Regions from separate parts of the Homo sapiens genome. Here all the other regions are reported to be linked to region 1. The links are microRNA targets in miRTarBase. Many come from high-throughput screens and were not tested one by one. Region 1 holds a microRNA gene; each other region holds the end of a gene's coding sequence.

What was found. Region 1 holds the annotated microRNA hsa-miR-1249-5p (AGGAGGGAGGAGAUGGGCCAAGUU, at 1,702-1,725, shown strand). A microRNA usually pairs through its seed, bases 2 to 8, with sites in the 3' UTR of a target mRNA and lowers its output. Matches are read on the target gene's strand: a 7mer-m8 pairs with bases 2 to 8, a 7mer-A1 pairs with bases 2 to 7 and ends in A, and an 8mer does both.
Region 2: the mRNA of GP5 is a reported target of hsa-miR-1249-5p. Seed matches in the 3' UTR shown: 7mer-m8 at 2,554-2,560, 7mer-m8 at 2,493-2,499 and 8mer at 1,595-1,602.
Region 3: miRTarBase lists UBL4A as a target of hsa-miR-1249-5p. Seed matches in the 3' UTR shown: 7mer-m8 at 529-535 and 7mer-m8 at 1,916-1,922.
Region 4: miRTarBase lists ZNF134 as a target of hsa-miR-1249-5p. Seed matches in the 3' UTR shown: 7mer-m8 at 1,566-1,572.
Region 5: miRTarBase lists KCNQ5 as a target of hsa-miR-1249-5p. Seed matches in the 3' UTR shown: 7mer-A1 at 2,665-2,671.

Annotation. Positions count from the first base shown.
Region 1 is chr22:45,199,570-45,202,717 of GRCh38, reverse strand. It overlaps MIR1249 (microRNA 1249), which reads left to right and starts at 1,699; the gene lies at 1,699-1,764. It overlaps KIAA0930, which reads left to right. Exons shown (of 10, transcript NM_001009880.2): 8 at 2,683-2,845. RefSeq lists a cis regulatory region at 319 and an enhancer at 247-391.
Region 2 is chr3:194,393,958-194,396,957 of GRCh38, forward strand. It overlaps GP5 (glycoprotein V platelet), which reads right to left. Exons shown (of 2, transcript NM_004488.2): 2 at 864-3,000. The coding sequence ends at 2,643. Among named protein-coding and RNA genes, the nearest start is that of GP5, 3.8 kb to the right of the region's middle.
Region 3 is chrX:154,482,727-154,485,726 of GRCh38, reverse strand. UBL4A (ubiquitin like 4A) reads left to right here. Exons shown (of 4, transcript NM_014235.5): 4 at 78-2,010. The coding sequence ends at 188. Among named protein-coding and RNA genes, the nearest start is that of UBL4A, 2.4 kb to the left of the region's middle. RefSeq lists an enhancer at 1-423.
Region 4 is chr19:57,621,166-57,624,165 of GRCh38, reverse strand. ZNF134 (zinc finger protein 134) reads right to left here. Exons shown (of 3, transcript NM_003435.5): 3 at 1-3,000. The coding sequence ends at 2,763. Among named protein-coding and RNA genes, the nearest start is that of ZNF134, 8.4 kb to the right of the region's middle.
Region 5 is chr6:73,194,979-73,197,978 of GRCh38, forward strand. KCNQ5 (potassium voltage-gated channel subfamily Q member 5) reads left to right here. Exons shown (of 14, transcript NM_019842.4): 14 at 1-3,000. The coding sequence ends at 436. Among named protein-coding and RNA genes, the nearest start is that of KHDC1L, 29 kb to the right of the region's middle.

The sequences.
Region 1 (3,148 bases):
CCAGAGCTCTTTCTGCCTCCCTGAGATGCCACAAAGCCAGGCTGAGTCCACAGAGCCAGTGGGCAGAAGAGACTGGCTGGGGACCCAGGCCCGGCCCTGGCGCCTGCCTGGGTGGACCTGCTGGGTGAGCGTGGGCACGTGGCCGGCCTTCCCCGGTGAGTCAGATGGGGATGATGGTGACTGAGGGTCAGCCAGCGCATGCAGAGGCCTAGGCCACCCAGCTCTTTGCCCCGCGGTTTGTAGGAGGTTCTGCTGCAGGAGAGGCGTTCCTGCCTCGCACAGCCGGAAACCAGACTTGCCAGCTTGCCCCAGGTCACAAGGTCTCTTGGGATAGCACTGGGCTTGGGGCCCTGCTCTGCCTAGGCCACTCTCCTTCCCCAGGGCGGGAGGCTGAGGTCAGCAGCAGCTTTGTTCCCAGAAGCCTTTGGTGGGGCACAGGCAGGAGAAGGTCTCCAGCCCACTGGCTGCTTTGCTCTACCTGGTTCTTCCAGAGGGACTGCCCAGAGCTGTAGTTCTTGGAAGAGTACAGGTGTGCTGGGCAGGGGGGTGCCCTTGGCACAGGTCCAGGGGCAGTCTTGCCCAGCCATTGTCCAGGAGAGACGCCACCCACAGCCAGAATCCTGCTCTGCTGCTCTCATAACCTTGGGTGTGTCTCTTTTCCTCTCCAAGCCTCAGTTTTCTCATCTAGAAACAGGGCACGAGGATACCTGCTCCTTCAGTATTTGGGAGGCTTTGAGGAATCCGGGGCTTGGCCCTCAGGAGGATTCCCAGGTGGCAGCTGCAGTAGTTGCTGTTGACCTACTTGGAAAGCAGAGGCGTGGGAATGTAAACGATGCATTACCGCAGGCATGCCTGAGATGAGGGAGTGTGCGTTTGTTATACTTTTAGTTCGAGAAAGATCTGAATCATGCATATCTCCGGGTGGTCAGATGTTGGTTTTCTTTCTCTTCTGTATATCTTTTTTTGGGGGGGAGGTATCTTCTGCAATGAATGTGTTTTGCAAGCCAAAGACAGCAAGTGCTATTTTTTGCAAAGATGGGTGAGAATTCCAGGCAGGGGCCTCTCTTGTCTTTGGAATGAGGTGGTTTATATTTCTGAGTTTGTTTCCGAGATAAAGGGCCTGGTTCTTCTCCCTGGTCCTAAATTATGCCCTGGGACTCTGACAAAATGTGTGTGTGAAAGTCCTTACGAAGATGTGGCCCGAGCTCTGGGCTGGACAAACCCGGGTGCCACCTCCAGCCACAGCCTGAGGGCTGAGTGACTACAGGTCACTAGACCTGCCTGAGCCTTGGTTTTCCCATCTGTCCAGCGGGAGTGGCTGTGAGGGGTGTGAAAGTCCCTGGTGCCTTAGCAGCTGGGCAGCCCTGGGATTCAGGAGGAGGGATGTGCTAGGGTCACACAGGGTCAGCAGCAGGGCTGGCCCCTGGGGACTGCCGCCTGTGCGCCTGCTATTACCTGTCTCCTTCTCTGGCGGGGTCGTCTGGAGCCAGTGCGTGACACATGCTGACTCTGTGTATTGTGGTTGCTGCTGTTTGTTTCTTTTATCTTTTAAAAACCTTCCCCGGCTTGTGGGAACACCGTCTGGAGCCCAGCAGCTGCCAGGACTTTGGTGGATGTCGGAGCCGTGACGAGGAGGCTGACGGGGCTCCCGAAGTCTCAGTCCCAGCTCATCCTGCTCCTCAGATTATTGTTGGCATGGGGAGGAGGGAGGAGATGGGCCAAGTTCCCTCTGGCTGGAACGCCCTTCCCCCCCTTCTTCACCTGGCGAACTCCTACTCGTCCTTCAAGACCCAGCTCCAGCGGCATCTCCTCCAGGAAGCCTTCCCTGATTTCCCAGGCTGTGGATCCCTTTTGCCTCTGTGCTTCATGTATCCTGTGCTTCTCTTTCTCTGTCTCCACAGCCAGCATGCTGTCTATGGTTGTCACTCTCTGAGTCTGTCACCCCAGCAGACTGTGAGCTCCTTGAGGGCAGGGACCTGCAATGTGCCTGTCTGTCCTTAGTGCTGTGCCTGCCTGGCCCTGAGTGGGTGTGAATGTTTGGTGAACAGAACCAAACGTGATTAGAAGTGGGGAGAAGACAGAGGCATAGAGCTACTTAGCACAGTATTTCCTGTGAAGGGTGCTGGGAATGAGAGGGATGGGGCCACGTCAGCCCTGAGAAGTAGGATGAGGAGCGTGGCCCTGGGGGACAGAAGACAGGGCTGCTGCCGTCCTGCTTGGTGACCACAGGCAAGCCAGGGTCTCGGTCCCTGCCTTAGTTTCCCCATGTGTCAGATGGGCTGACGCTAGCCCCTGTCTCACGGAGCTGGAGGCTCAGAGGGTCTGTGTGTGGGGCCAGTGCTCACTCAGCGTCAGCAGCTGTTGTTACTTTGTGCTTGAACACCCCCTACCCACTGTTTGAGGCCCAGAGGAGGGGGGTCTTTCTGCCATTTGCGGCAGCAGCCTGGCCCCTCCTCGGGTAGCACTGGTGGCCAGGTGTCCTGCTGGCCCCTGGGCTGGAACGCATCTTCCAGTCTCTAGGCCCCACCTAGCACGGGCCGGCTGGGCCTGGGTCCTCCTGGGCCAGCGGCCTCTTCCCTGGGAGCTGTGTCAGGTTGTTTGAGGGTGGGATAGGAGGGGCGTTGGGACCCCCGGGGAGGGGGCTGTTCTGCTACTCTGGTGACTTTGGCTGCTTGTTCCCAGGTGACCTCCTTCAGCACACCCCCCACCCCAGAACGGAACAACCGGCCTGCCTTCTTCTCCCCATCCCTCAAGAGGAAGGTGCCCCGGAACCGGATCGCTGAGATGAAGAAGTCGCACTCGGCCAACGACAGCGAGGAGTTCTTCCGGGAGGACGACGGTGGAGGTGACCCCCCACTCCGTGCCCTAGGGTCCCCGTGCCCTTCAGTCTCTTCTTGATCCAGACCAGTCATTCATTCATTTATTCATTCATTCATTTGTTCATTCAGCAGCACTTAGAGAGTGGGTGCCATGTGCCAGGCAGCCCTCCAGGAGCTGAGGGGTAGAGCTGGGGACAGGCAGAAATGGCTGCCTCTGGGGGTCCCGTCCTGGTGGGCTCAGGCGTCTCCTTGGCAGAGTGCTTGGAGCGCAGATGTGCAGCAGTTGGTCAGTTTCAGGGGATTTCCCACCTTTCTAAGGCTTTTCAGCC
Region 2 (3,000 bases), not on the chromosome of region 1:
CTCCTAACACTATCCCTCTCCCAGCCCCCCACCCCCCGACAGTCCAGGCGTGTGACGTTCCCCGCCCTGTGTCCAAGTGTTCTCATTGTTCAATTCCCACCTATGAGTGAGAACATGCGGTGTTTGGTTTTCTGTTCTTATAGTGAAGGTTTTTATAAAAAAAATTCTAAAACATCACTGAAAGATTTAAAATGACGTAAATAAATGGGAAGATGAACCATGCTTACTGGCAAGAACACTAGGTATTGTAAAAAATACAGATTCTTCCCCAAATTAGTTTTAAATTTACTGCAATTTTTTTTTTTTTTTTTTGAGATGGAGTCTCGCTCTGTCGCCCAGGCTAGAGTGCAGTGGCACGATCTCGGCTCACTGCAACCTCCGCCTCCCGGGTTCAAGTGATTCTCCTGCCTCAGTGTCCCAAGTAGCTGGGATTACAGGCACCTGCCACCGCACCCAGCTAATTTTTGTATTTTTAGTAGAGACGGGGTTTTACCATCTTGGCCAGGCTGGTCTCAAACTCCTGACCTTGTGATCCACCCACCTCAGCCTCCCAAAGTGCTGAGATTACAGGCGTGAGCTGTAAGTTCTATTAAAATCCCAGCAGGGTTTTTCAATGGAGTTGACATGCTGACCCTGAAATATTCATAGAATTGCAAAGAACCAAGAATAGAAGAAAAACAAGGTGGAGAGATGACCCTATACCAAAAATTATTAAAGCTCCAATAATGGAGACCGTGAGTCTGGTATGGGACTAGACAAGTAGACCAATGGAGAACCCAGAAACCAACTCCCACAGCTGCAGAACCCAGAAACAAATGCCACGATCCAGCTCTCCTGCTCCACATCCACCTGGTGGTGTTGGAGGATCCATTGCTCTGGATTGTGAGCACAGAGTCTGGCCACCCAGGGCTGAGGCCATCCGCAGGGGAAGACAGACTGATGTGAATGTAACCTCCAGTCTGAGAAAGTTCGGACTTACCCTTATACACAGAGAAAAATACCAACTCAAAGCTCTTCTTTAGAAATCATGATGCCAATAATAATTGCTCATCCTTTAGTAATAATAGCTAACATTCATTAACATGTATTGCCTGCAGGCCGCTGGGCTAAGTCATTATATGCTTTATTGCCTTTAATTCTCACAAAAACTCTACGAAGCAGGTACTATGTTATCCTGTTTTAAGGTTCAGGAAACCAAGGCTTAGAGAATGTAAGCAGGTGTCTTACCCAAAGTCCCATGCAGTTAGTAAGTGGTAGAGCTGGGATTTGAACCCACAGTTGTCAACTCGCCAGCCCCTGTTTTAACCACTGCCTCTCATAAGCACAGACATTCAATTAAAGCAACAAAGGTTTTACGGCTTTCAGTTGGAAGAACAAATGAGACTGTGACAGCAGCTGAACTAGAATCAAGCTTATCATTATATTCATGAATACCAGTCACATGTTAACTGCTCCATAAATGCTTGTGAAATGAGGTGGCAGAGTTCCAGGAAATGCAAATCAATCCAGTTTCAAAATGACATGTTGCATGGATGTAAAGCAAGTGGAAACTCACAGGAGGCTCAGGAAACACGCTGGACCTACACTGGGCACCTGGAGGGAAGGCTCCGTGTTTTCTTCCTCTCTCAGCCTCACAGAAGTCGCTTATCCTGAAAATGCTCATGCATGAATGGAGTCCAGTGCTCTCCCAAGTAGCCCATAGGTCAGAGAGACATAAAGTGAGAAAAATGGAGCAAGGGAAAAAATGGCAAGAGCTCTACTTCTCAAATAAAATTCGATGAAGAGGGCCAGGTGTAGTGGCTTACGCCTGTAATCCCAGCACTTTGGGAGGCCAAGGCGGGCAGATCACTTGTGGCCAGGAGTTCAAGACCAGGAGTTTGAGATCAGCCAGGCCAATATGGCAAAGCCCCGTCTCTACTTTAAAAAGTACAAAAATTAGCCGGGTGTAGTGGCACACGCCTCTAATCCCAGCTACTCAGAACGCTGAGGCATGAGAATCACTTGAACCTGGGAGGCGGAGGCTGCAGTGAACTGAGACGGCCCACTGCACGCCAGCCTGGGCCACAGAGCTAGACTGTCCAAAAACAAAAACAAAAAATTAGATAGAGCAACAGCCTATCCTTTCCCTCCAGGAAAAGCCATCATCACTTGGATGGCATGTGTTCCTTTATCCACGCATTGATTTCACAAACATTTACCGGCTTACTCTGTGCAGGAGACAGGCCCCGGCCTGGAGCTGTCCCCTTACTCAGTAGACACTGAAGAGGCCCCTCTCTCCACCAGACGCCAAGCCAGGCACAGCGGAGCACGGATGGGTCCAACACAGTCCAGCGCCCCCGGCAGTGTCAGCGCACACCCGCGTGGGAGCTGGGGAAGGCAGGCAACCACAGTTTACAAACGTCAAGCTCAGTTTCCAGGAACGGGCGGGGGACACAGAGAGGAGGGGTTGCGGGCCTGTGAGAATGAAGAGCACAGAGCGGAGAGGGGGAGGAGGAGGGAAAGGAAGGCGTGGCAGTGAGAGAGAAGAGGAAGAAGAGAGGAGGAGTGGGGAGGGGAGGGAGAGCAAGACAGCAGCGGGTCTGGATTCCCCTCCGAGCCACATCTGGTCAGGTTCTAAGTAATTAGAAGATTTTCCCATTGGTTTACCCAAGGGCTCTCTCTCTGATTAATTTTCGAAAGAGTTGGCCAATTTTAATCATAGCAAACACGATGATCACGGTGATCATGGCCTGAACAGCTAAAAGCAGAAAATAAAACCCCCAGAACGGACTATGATCTTGACCTTTGCCCGTGGTCACCGGCTGGGCCCACACCCAGGGTTCTGAGCTGTTGGGAGCCAAGGCTGGGTGGACAGGGGCTTCCGAGGAGCTGTCCGCAGCGGGGCGGGGAGGCGGGCCCCGGGGGCCCGGGCACTCCGCGTCACCCCCCGGCAGGGCCCAGAGCGGCAGGCCGGCGTGCGCCCCAGGGCCTGCGCACCGTGGGGGCTCTTCCCCGCCCACG
Region 3 (3,000 bases), not on the chromosome of region 1:
CCAGCCCCTACCTCTGTTGCAGTGTATGCCCCCCCACCACTGGCAGCCCCTGAATCTTCCTGCCCTTCTCTCCCCAGGATTACGAGAGGTCCCTGAGTCGCCTGACGCTGGACGACATCGAACGGTTGGCCAGCCGCTTCCTGCACCCTGAAGTGACTGAGACAATGGAGAAGGGCTTCTCCAAATAGAATTCTCGGAGCATGGGGAGGTGCCCAACGCCAGGCTACCGCTGCATGTCGCACTAAGTGTGTTCTCCTGTTGCAGTTGGGCTCATCATCATCATAGCTGGCATGTACCTGGCTCTGGCCAGGTGCTAGGCACTCCTCACAGCTTGACCTGGGTTTGCTTCCACACCCTCAGAAGAGGAGAGCCGGCACAGCAGAGGCACCGGCGATGAAGTGGCACAGCCCCAGTCGGAATCCAGCGGCTTCTGAAAGTGCCTTGGTGTGAGAAGGAGGAAGGGGCCGCTTGGAGAGCTGGGCTCTCGCATGTCATGTTTAGCCCACTGAGAATATACCCTCAGGTGACTCCCTCCCGATCCTGAAAGGGAAAGCAGCTGTCACCTGACTTCTGGCGGGTCCAACATAGCCCTCAGCTTACCTCTGCAGGAGGCCAAGTGACAGCCAGCCCTGGAACCCCCCGACCCCCGCAGCTGCTGCAGCCAGTGTGCCAGTGTGCGTTCGACAAATGGAAAAGCAGATTGGGGCCAGGGAGTCAGCAAGGCACCCCAGCTCTGTGATGTGACTTTGGGCGAGTCTCAGTGCCACTTGGTCCCCAGCCATGGACTCTATACAGTGAGGGCCACTCACCGACCTGAGTCAGTGTCCTCTGTCTCACAGGGCCCCTCTCCCTTCTGTTCAGTAAACAAACTGAAGCCAAAAATGAAGCCGTGGCCAAGTGTGACCCAGAGATGGGGTGTCCTGGCCCTTAGTGACACAGCTCCTCTCTGGGGCACCCTATCTGCTTGTCTCGTCCAGGAAGCGTTAGGGCTGATGGGTGACTCAGCAAGGCAGTGTCAGAGCTGGGACTGGGCGTAGGCCTTTGTCCTCATCCCCAGCACTGGCCTCCCTGTGGAAGATGAACATATCCCAGCCACCTGTGTACAGGGGCTCACTTTGTGTGCTCCTTGTTGCCTGAGAAGAAACCTTGGGGTGCCAGGGTGGGGGCAGAAGCATGGACTGGGTTCCGGTTCATCCTCCTCCACCCTGCCGTGTGTGTGGGCACAAGAGGACATCTAACCACCTGCTCCTTGGAGGAGGCCCCCAGGGGTGGTAGAGGCTGGAAGGAAGCCACATCAGGAGGACGCCACTCCGGCCCTTCACCCTTGCCAAGTGAGCTGCTCACAGTGTGGTCAGGGCTGCGCGTGCTGGAGGCCCTCCTGCCTGGGCCTTGTGGGGCAAATATTGGGTCCCCAGGCTGGAAAGATGGACAGAGGCCCAATGGGTGAAGGCTTTGAAGAGCACACAGAAGCCCCTGGCCCCCCACGAGAGCTGGAGAGCCATGTATATGGCTTCAAAGCCACCTACGGCAGGGACACACTCGTGAGCATGTGTGGCCTGCAGTTCAGGTGATACATTTACCAGTGTTCTTGTTTGTGTGGTGCCAGGAAATTGATTTTGGAAAAAGTGAAATAACATTAAAGGTGAATGTGAGGCTTCTACTTTTATCCAAAAGGAGCTATATTAGCTAGGCTGTTTCTGATATCCAATCATTGGTTTAACAATAAAGGCAATTTGTTTAATCAGTTAACGGAAATTTCTTGGCTTATGAAAGTGAAAAGTCCAGTGGTATTGGCATTGGCAGCAGGTGAGCAATTTCACCCAGTGTCTTCTGCCTCCCTCTGCGTTGGTATCTGCTACATCCCAGGCCACCACCTCCGAGGATGAAAAGATGGCTGCCTGCAGCTTCCACGGAATCCCTCCCTCACTGCCAGAGCAGCATCTTCTCTGTGTACCACCTCTGCTGTCTCAGATGCCCCCAGCAAATAAACACTCTTCTCGTTGGTCAGAACTGGATTGTGCGTCCAATCATTTTGGCTGGGGTAGGGGGTAATTCTCCGTCAGGGCTGGCTCCCTGGAGCTAGGCATGGGGCCACTTCCCTGGACACACATGGGCTATGCAAGGGACAGAAGGCTCTGGGGGAGGGCTGGATGAATGGATATCCTCAATGGTGGCCGCAAATGGCAGCTGTCCACTACAGGGGCCATGCATGTGTCAGATCAGGGCCACCTCGCAGGTAGTGGAGGAGAGGGCTGGAGGCGTCAAGATCACACAGGGAAAGCGTTTTCTGAGGCTTGGGTTAGGGAAAGCACCAGAGAGAGGAAACACTGCAGGGATGGGAGACAGGAAGTGGGGGGATCGTTAGAGGACACTGGGGATTCTGCATGAAGATGGAGCAGCCACAGGCTGCAGCCCCCCCAATGCTGAGATCCTTTAACAGGGGTCAGAATGTTTACTGCAGGTGCTGCGCCCCTCTGAGCCAATTGTCCGCCCTGAGAGGTAGCACCGAGTCATCCACTGCCCCCTGCCCGGTGAAGGGCCCTGAGACCCACCACCTGCCCCTCAGGGAGGGGCCTCGGGACAGTATCTGAGTCCTGCGGCCATGGTGTGACTACAATGACATCAGGAGATAGCAGCATGAGTGAAGGGCCCAGCTGGGATGAGGTGCTTTTGGTGTCGTTTCCCAAGGGCCCACGGGAGGAAGAGCGGCCTCAGAGGACAGCAGCATTTGCCTTGGGGTGGGGAGGTTCCCTGGCAATGGATCAGCTGGTGTCCCATGTGAGCCTCACCAGCTCCAATAGATCTGCCCGGGCCTGGTACTCCCAGGAGTAGATGCAGCAGAGGTGGCCAGCCTTGAGCCTCCCAGCCCTGAAAAGCCTTCAGGAGAGATGAGAGACACACAGCAACTGCCCTGTCCTCCTCCAGGGCCCAGCTGGAGCGGCCTGCATACACCTTCAGGGCCCCACTGAATGGCCGGCAGTCCTCATTCCTCACCCTCTT
Region 4 (3,000 bases), not on the chromosome of region 1:
ATCCCAAGAAAATCTGAAATCTAGTTTGGCAAATGCCACTGGGAGTCAAGACATGGGAATATCACATGGTTCAGGACTCTGCCCACTGGACTCTCCTCTGCTCTGAGTCATCCTTCCTTTCTCATGAAAGGTAGCAAGGGCTTGCACCTGTTTCCGCAGCCAGTCCCATGTATAGAATATTACAACCTTTAACTTCACACTTTACATGCCTACACCCTTTAACTTCATACTTTCAAGGTCCCTTTAGACCCAAGGTGAGCATTTCCACTGGTATAAAATTTTCAAGAATTTTGTGAGTCTCCTGTACATCACTGAAATTCACAACATTAGAAAAGAGGTTTATGCAGATTATTCCTCCTAGGGAATCCCCTATCTATATTTTTGGCTTTTGCTGAGATGAGTGATAGTTTAAACTTCTTATAAATTGTTTGTATTGAGGGGATCTACAAGTCACATTTAATCTCTTCAAAGAGCTTTTTGTGTGACAGTGTTCTGATGTATGTTTTGATCCCGGTATCAGCAAACATCCTTGGCTATCTCTCTAAAACATCTCTCTCTCTAAAACATCTATCTTTCCTAACAATGAATCTCTTAATTTCAATGGTTTGTTTTTTTTTTCCAATTAAGATGGGCTGAGAATTTCCCAAATCATCAAATCTTAGGTCTTTTCTGTTTCACAGTTCTTCCCTGTATGTATCTCTTTTCCAATATATTTTACTATAATTAGTAAGATATATGGTCACACCTTCAAAACCTCTGCTTAAAAATGTTCTCAGCTAAGTGTCCACATAAAGACTCATGCATCAATATTTGCAGCAGCTTTTTAATATTTAAAAATGGGGGTGGAGTACAGACATCAATTAAGATAAATGGATAAACTGTGGTATATCCATACAGAATATGACTCAGTAATTTTAAAATGGACTGTTCATACATACCATGGACAAATTTCAAATTATGTTGCATGAAAGACAGCATGCAAAATTAACACTTTATAGGCAGACTTACATAAAATTCTAGAAAAGACAAATTTACCTACAGTGAAAACTACTCAGTGGTTGCCTAGGGATTCTGGGGGAAGGCGAGCACTGAGAGAAAGGTTAAGGGCCTCAGGTTAACTTTGGGGGTAACAGATATGTCCAATACCACTGATAGGGTGATAGTTTCAAGTGTGTGTGTGTGTGTGTGTGTGTGTGTGTGTGTGTGTATCAAGACTTAACTCGTACACTTTAAATATGTGCAATATATTGCATGTTGATTACACCTCAGTGAACCTATAAAAAGTTATCCCATTTAAAAATCTGGATCTCCCACTTCTATTGGAAACTGGACAACTGGACATCACTAAGAGTGACTCTACCTCACTATGGTGACTCTTATCACTCCAAATATCTTGGGAAGACAATCTCTTCCTCAGTAGTAAGAAAAACTGGCAAACAATGAGGACCATTGCCAAAAGAGTCACCAGAAACTCCAGCTGGTCACAAAAGCTACTTCCTTGGACCACACCTCTTTACTCCCAGGGTTACCGCCTGTGCCGCAAAGACATTAGGTAAAGAGCCCAGGGAGGGAGAGGAATCTAGAAAAACTACATTCGTTGCTGCACCAGTGACCTTGACCTAACAGTAACATGGCCCTGGAGATCCTGAGATTTCTGGATACCCTGATCCCATTCAGCCTTAGTGCCTGGACTGTCTGTGGATGTGTTTTTACAATGGGCACTTCCCCTCTAGTTTGCCACAATCTCCCCAATCCCAATTACTCACACTCAATATTTATCAATTTTGTTTCCCTACTGGATGCTTTAGATCTTACCAACAGTGGCCTGTGAAACAGATTCAGGCCTTCAGGGAATATGGCCACTCAGCAGGTCCTGAGGAACAGCTTTCCCTCAACAGTGTTGGGGAACATGGGACACATGCTGCAAACAAGACACCCAATCCATGCTGTTTCAAAACACTGCAGGCTGTCACAGCAGCAGCACCCTCCTCAAGGTGAAATATGGGCTCTCAAATAACTCTAAAATCCAGACAAATCAGGTCTACACAAGATCTTAATTCTTACTTAACAAGCTTTGTCAGCTATGGAAGTTAACATCAAAACTGGACTAAGAACTGTTCTCCCTCAACCCACTGTCCCATTTGAGGCAAAGTTGGAGGCACCGCACAAAGGCTGTCTTCAGTTTGGCAGAGCCTGTTTTCAATCCACCCCAGACCATAAGAAGAAGCCCCAAGATTAAATGTGGCTTAAACTGTAAAGCCTTTATTATCACAAACCAGAGCAACATGAGGCAAGTACTTTCCCAGGCCAGGTGACTTGGAGGCTGGAAAAACTTGATTACAAGTATGTGAGACCAAGAATATCCATGAAGAAAGTAAACTTTTTGTATAAGCCACCAGCAGATACAGCTCAGACCCTCTTGGCTAAAAATGGGTCATATCCATACCTATACCTGTCATACAGAAGGGAATGAGGACCCCCAATGAACTCAGGCATTTCATGATTTTCTCCAGGGACTGGACAATACAAAACCCTGCCTTCCCCAATGCTGGGGTATCTTAGCTGGTAGAGTTAAGATGGTTTCGGCCACATGGATTGACAGTGACATAACTCTGGCAAAAAACCTGAGCAAGTCAGAAAGTGCAACATATCCCTAGAAGGTTCCCACGTACCTGGCACCATAAGGTATCTCCTTTGTGTCAATGTTCAGATACATGAAATTCAACATCTGATTGATGAGTCCTGTTGTATTCAAAGCACTCCTAAAGCCTGCCTGCAGTGTGAACTTTCTGGTGCCGATTGAGGTGGGAGCTTAAGCTGTAGGCCTTCCCACATTCACTGCACTCATATGGCCTTTCTCCAGTGTGAACTCTTTGGTGTCGAACAAGGTGGGAGGTTCTGATAAAGTCTTTCCCACATTTACTGCACACAAAAGGCCTTTCACCAGTGTGAACCCTCTGGTGTGCAATATAGTCAGAACTTCGACTAAAGAATTTCCCG
Region 5 (3,000 bases), not on the chromosome of region 1:
GGAAAATGTTCAGGTTGCACAGTCAAATCTCACCAAGGACCGTTCTATGAGGAAAAGCTTTGACATGGGAGGAGAAACTCTGTTGTCTGTCTGTCCCATGGTGCCGAAGGACTTGGGCAAATCTTTGTCTGTGCAAAACCTGATCAGGTCGACCGAGGAACTGAATATACAACTTTCAGGGAGTGAGTCAAGTGGCTCCAGAGGCAGCCAAGATTTTTACCCCAAATGGAGGGAATCCAAATTGTTTATAACTGATGAAGAGGTGGGTCCCGAAGAGACAGAGACAGACACTTTTGATGCCGCACCGCAGCCTGCCAGGGAAGCTGCCTTTGCATCAGACTCTCTAAGGACTGGAAGGTCACGATCATCTCAGAGCATTTGTAAGGCAGGAGAAAGTACAGATGCCCTCAGCTTGCCTCATGTCAAACTGAAATAAGTTCTTCATTTTCTTTCCAGGCATAGCAGTTCTTTAGCCATACATATCATTGCATGAACTATTTCGAAAGCCCTTCTAAAAAGTTGAAATTGCAAGAATCGGGAAGAACATGAAAGGCAGTTTATAAGCCCGTTACCTTTTAATTGCATGAAAATGCATGTTTAGGGATGGCTAAAATTCCAAGGTGCATCGACATTAACCCACTCATTTAGTAATGTACCTTGAGTTAAAAAGCCTGAGAAACCAAACACAGCTAATGCTATGGGGTGTATGAATATGTCAAGTTTAGGTCATTTAGAAGATTTGACACTGTATTTTGAAATTATGGGAGTAAACACCTTCAAATTTCAGGCATTTCTGCTTTGTGACTAAATACAAACTACATTTTCAAGATTAGGCCATAATGTATATTTAAACACAATGGCTATCAACAGCTGCTAATAAGGTATCAACTAAAGCAGAATTGGGGAATAATAGAAATGGCTGCTTATTTCAAGATATATTTGCCAACCCATTCCTATTCAGTCATTTTATTATTAATGTAATTTGAATGTCAATTTGTGTGCTTTTGGTGATTTAGCGCTGTGGCAAGCAATTTTGCACATCATTTTCATGTTGTTCTTTATGACAAGAATGTTCTTCAATTAGAAAATGTGCAAATAATGAAATTCAGGGCCAGTGAGGCAAATAGACTATCTGACATATTTGACTTTATGAAAACATATTGCCTGATGGCAGAATCAACTTTATAAGTGGTCAACTTCTACACAAGCGTATGAAATACTGGTCAGTAGAACAGCCATTGTGATTGGACTGGTTTCTCTGCAATGGCGCCAACCCCAGGCTTGCCAATACTGCCTATGTAAAGGGCAAGTGTGAGAAGCTATTCTCATTTCGCTGACATACAGGTAGGACTATGGGGGATGGGACATTTGAGTGGGACTGAGATAGGAAAGGCTTGAAAAGAACCCAGAAACACCACCAGGAAGTTGGCAAAGTAAAAGAAAATGACTTCCCCCTCAAAGGGCAATGAGAGGGAGAGAAACAAACCAAAATAGAAGAACTAGACTTTTTAGAAAATGAGTATTGCTAGGGAATTCAACTACCTAATCTTCCCTTATTCTTATATATAAGCAGAGAATTTTTGCAAGGTATTTATTTTTTAATATGCCCTGAATGTCTTTTGCTATTATGTGTACATTTTGCATATGAAAGTCTAAAACGAAACTTCCTTTACTTTTTATACTGTAGTGAAAATTTTCTATTCTTCCCAAGAATGTTGTCCCAAATCTGAAATTACTGGTTCAATTTCCTGATATAAACATTTACAATTAGAAGCTAGATAGTACTGGCAGAGTCTGCAAATCAGAACACTTAAATATATCATGGCAGCAAAAAGACCAAGGGAAACAAAATGACAAATGTATTTATCAGAAAGCAAGCAATGCTGACTGCTTGTTAGAAACCCATCTAGCTATCTTAGGTCACCAGAACTTCAGCCAACGTAATGACATTCAAAAAAAAAGGACATAAGAGATAGCATTTCAATTCAATTAAACCCTAGCCACAGGAGGACTCAAGAAAGGAAGTTGTTTCCTTGGCAGACATAAATGCTGCCTCCAGAAGTACTTCTCCAGCAGCCAAGCAGAATGAGCAGGGTTATCAAGTGGATGTTCAAAGGAAGAAGGAGGCCCTGAACTCCACCAATCCTCCCCAGCCCTCCCCAACAGGCTTTCTCCATCATTGACTCTCCCCTGCTTTTCTTCTTCATTAACTCCTTATTCATTCCCTGCCAGTATTTTGCTTCTGAACTTCACCAGGCCTTAACCAGCCTCCATCCCCAGGTCAACCAGTTCTCCGCTTTACCTAAAATGTGCTTCTCAACCTTTTAGAACCTTGTCCCTTTTGATAAACATGGAAATTTTTAAAGCTTCCTCTTCGCATCCCACTTGGATTCTAAGACAATTAGAATCATTTAGAATCTTTTTGGCTGCTGGAAATGTATAGAAGATAGAGGCTAAATTTTACACTTCAGTTAAGACATTGTCAATCCTTTTAAGCAATTGTTTTCATTTTCAAAATACAGAATGTTAGTAAATTATGAAAATCAATTTTTCATCTTCATTCAACCTGAAGTTGTGATTCCCCCTTGCAAGAATGTTGCATACACACACACACACACACACACACACACACACACACACACACACACACACACACACACACACCCCTCCACTGACCTAAAGCCAGACACCTGCCGTGACTGGGCAGGCTCTCTCCCATTATTAACAGAGGAAGAGGAGGGAGGCAGCAACTTTCAGGTAGCACTGATTCTTGGACATACTCTGTCCTGGGTCAAACCCCACTGGCAGCAGGAATTCTGAATGTATTGGGGACCCCTCCTTAGGCCTCGTTAAGTCTCAAACACAGTACAGCTCACCCAGCATTGCTGACGACTGAAGATTCAGAAACAAAACCTACACACAGCACTGAGGTCTTAATCATAGCAAAATGTGATAAACCATGTTGTGAAAAACTTTTATACATTGAAGCCATGACCATTT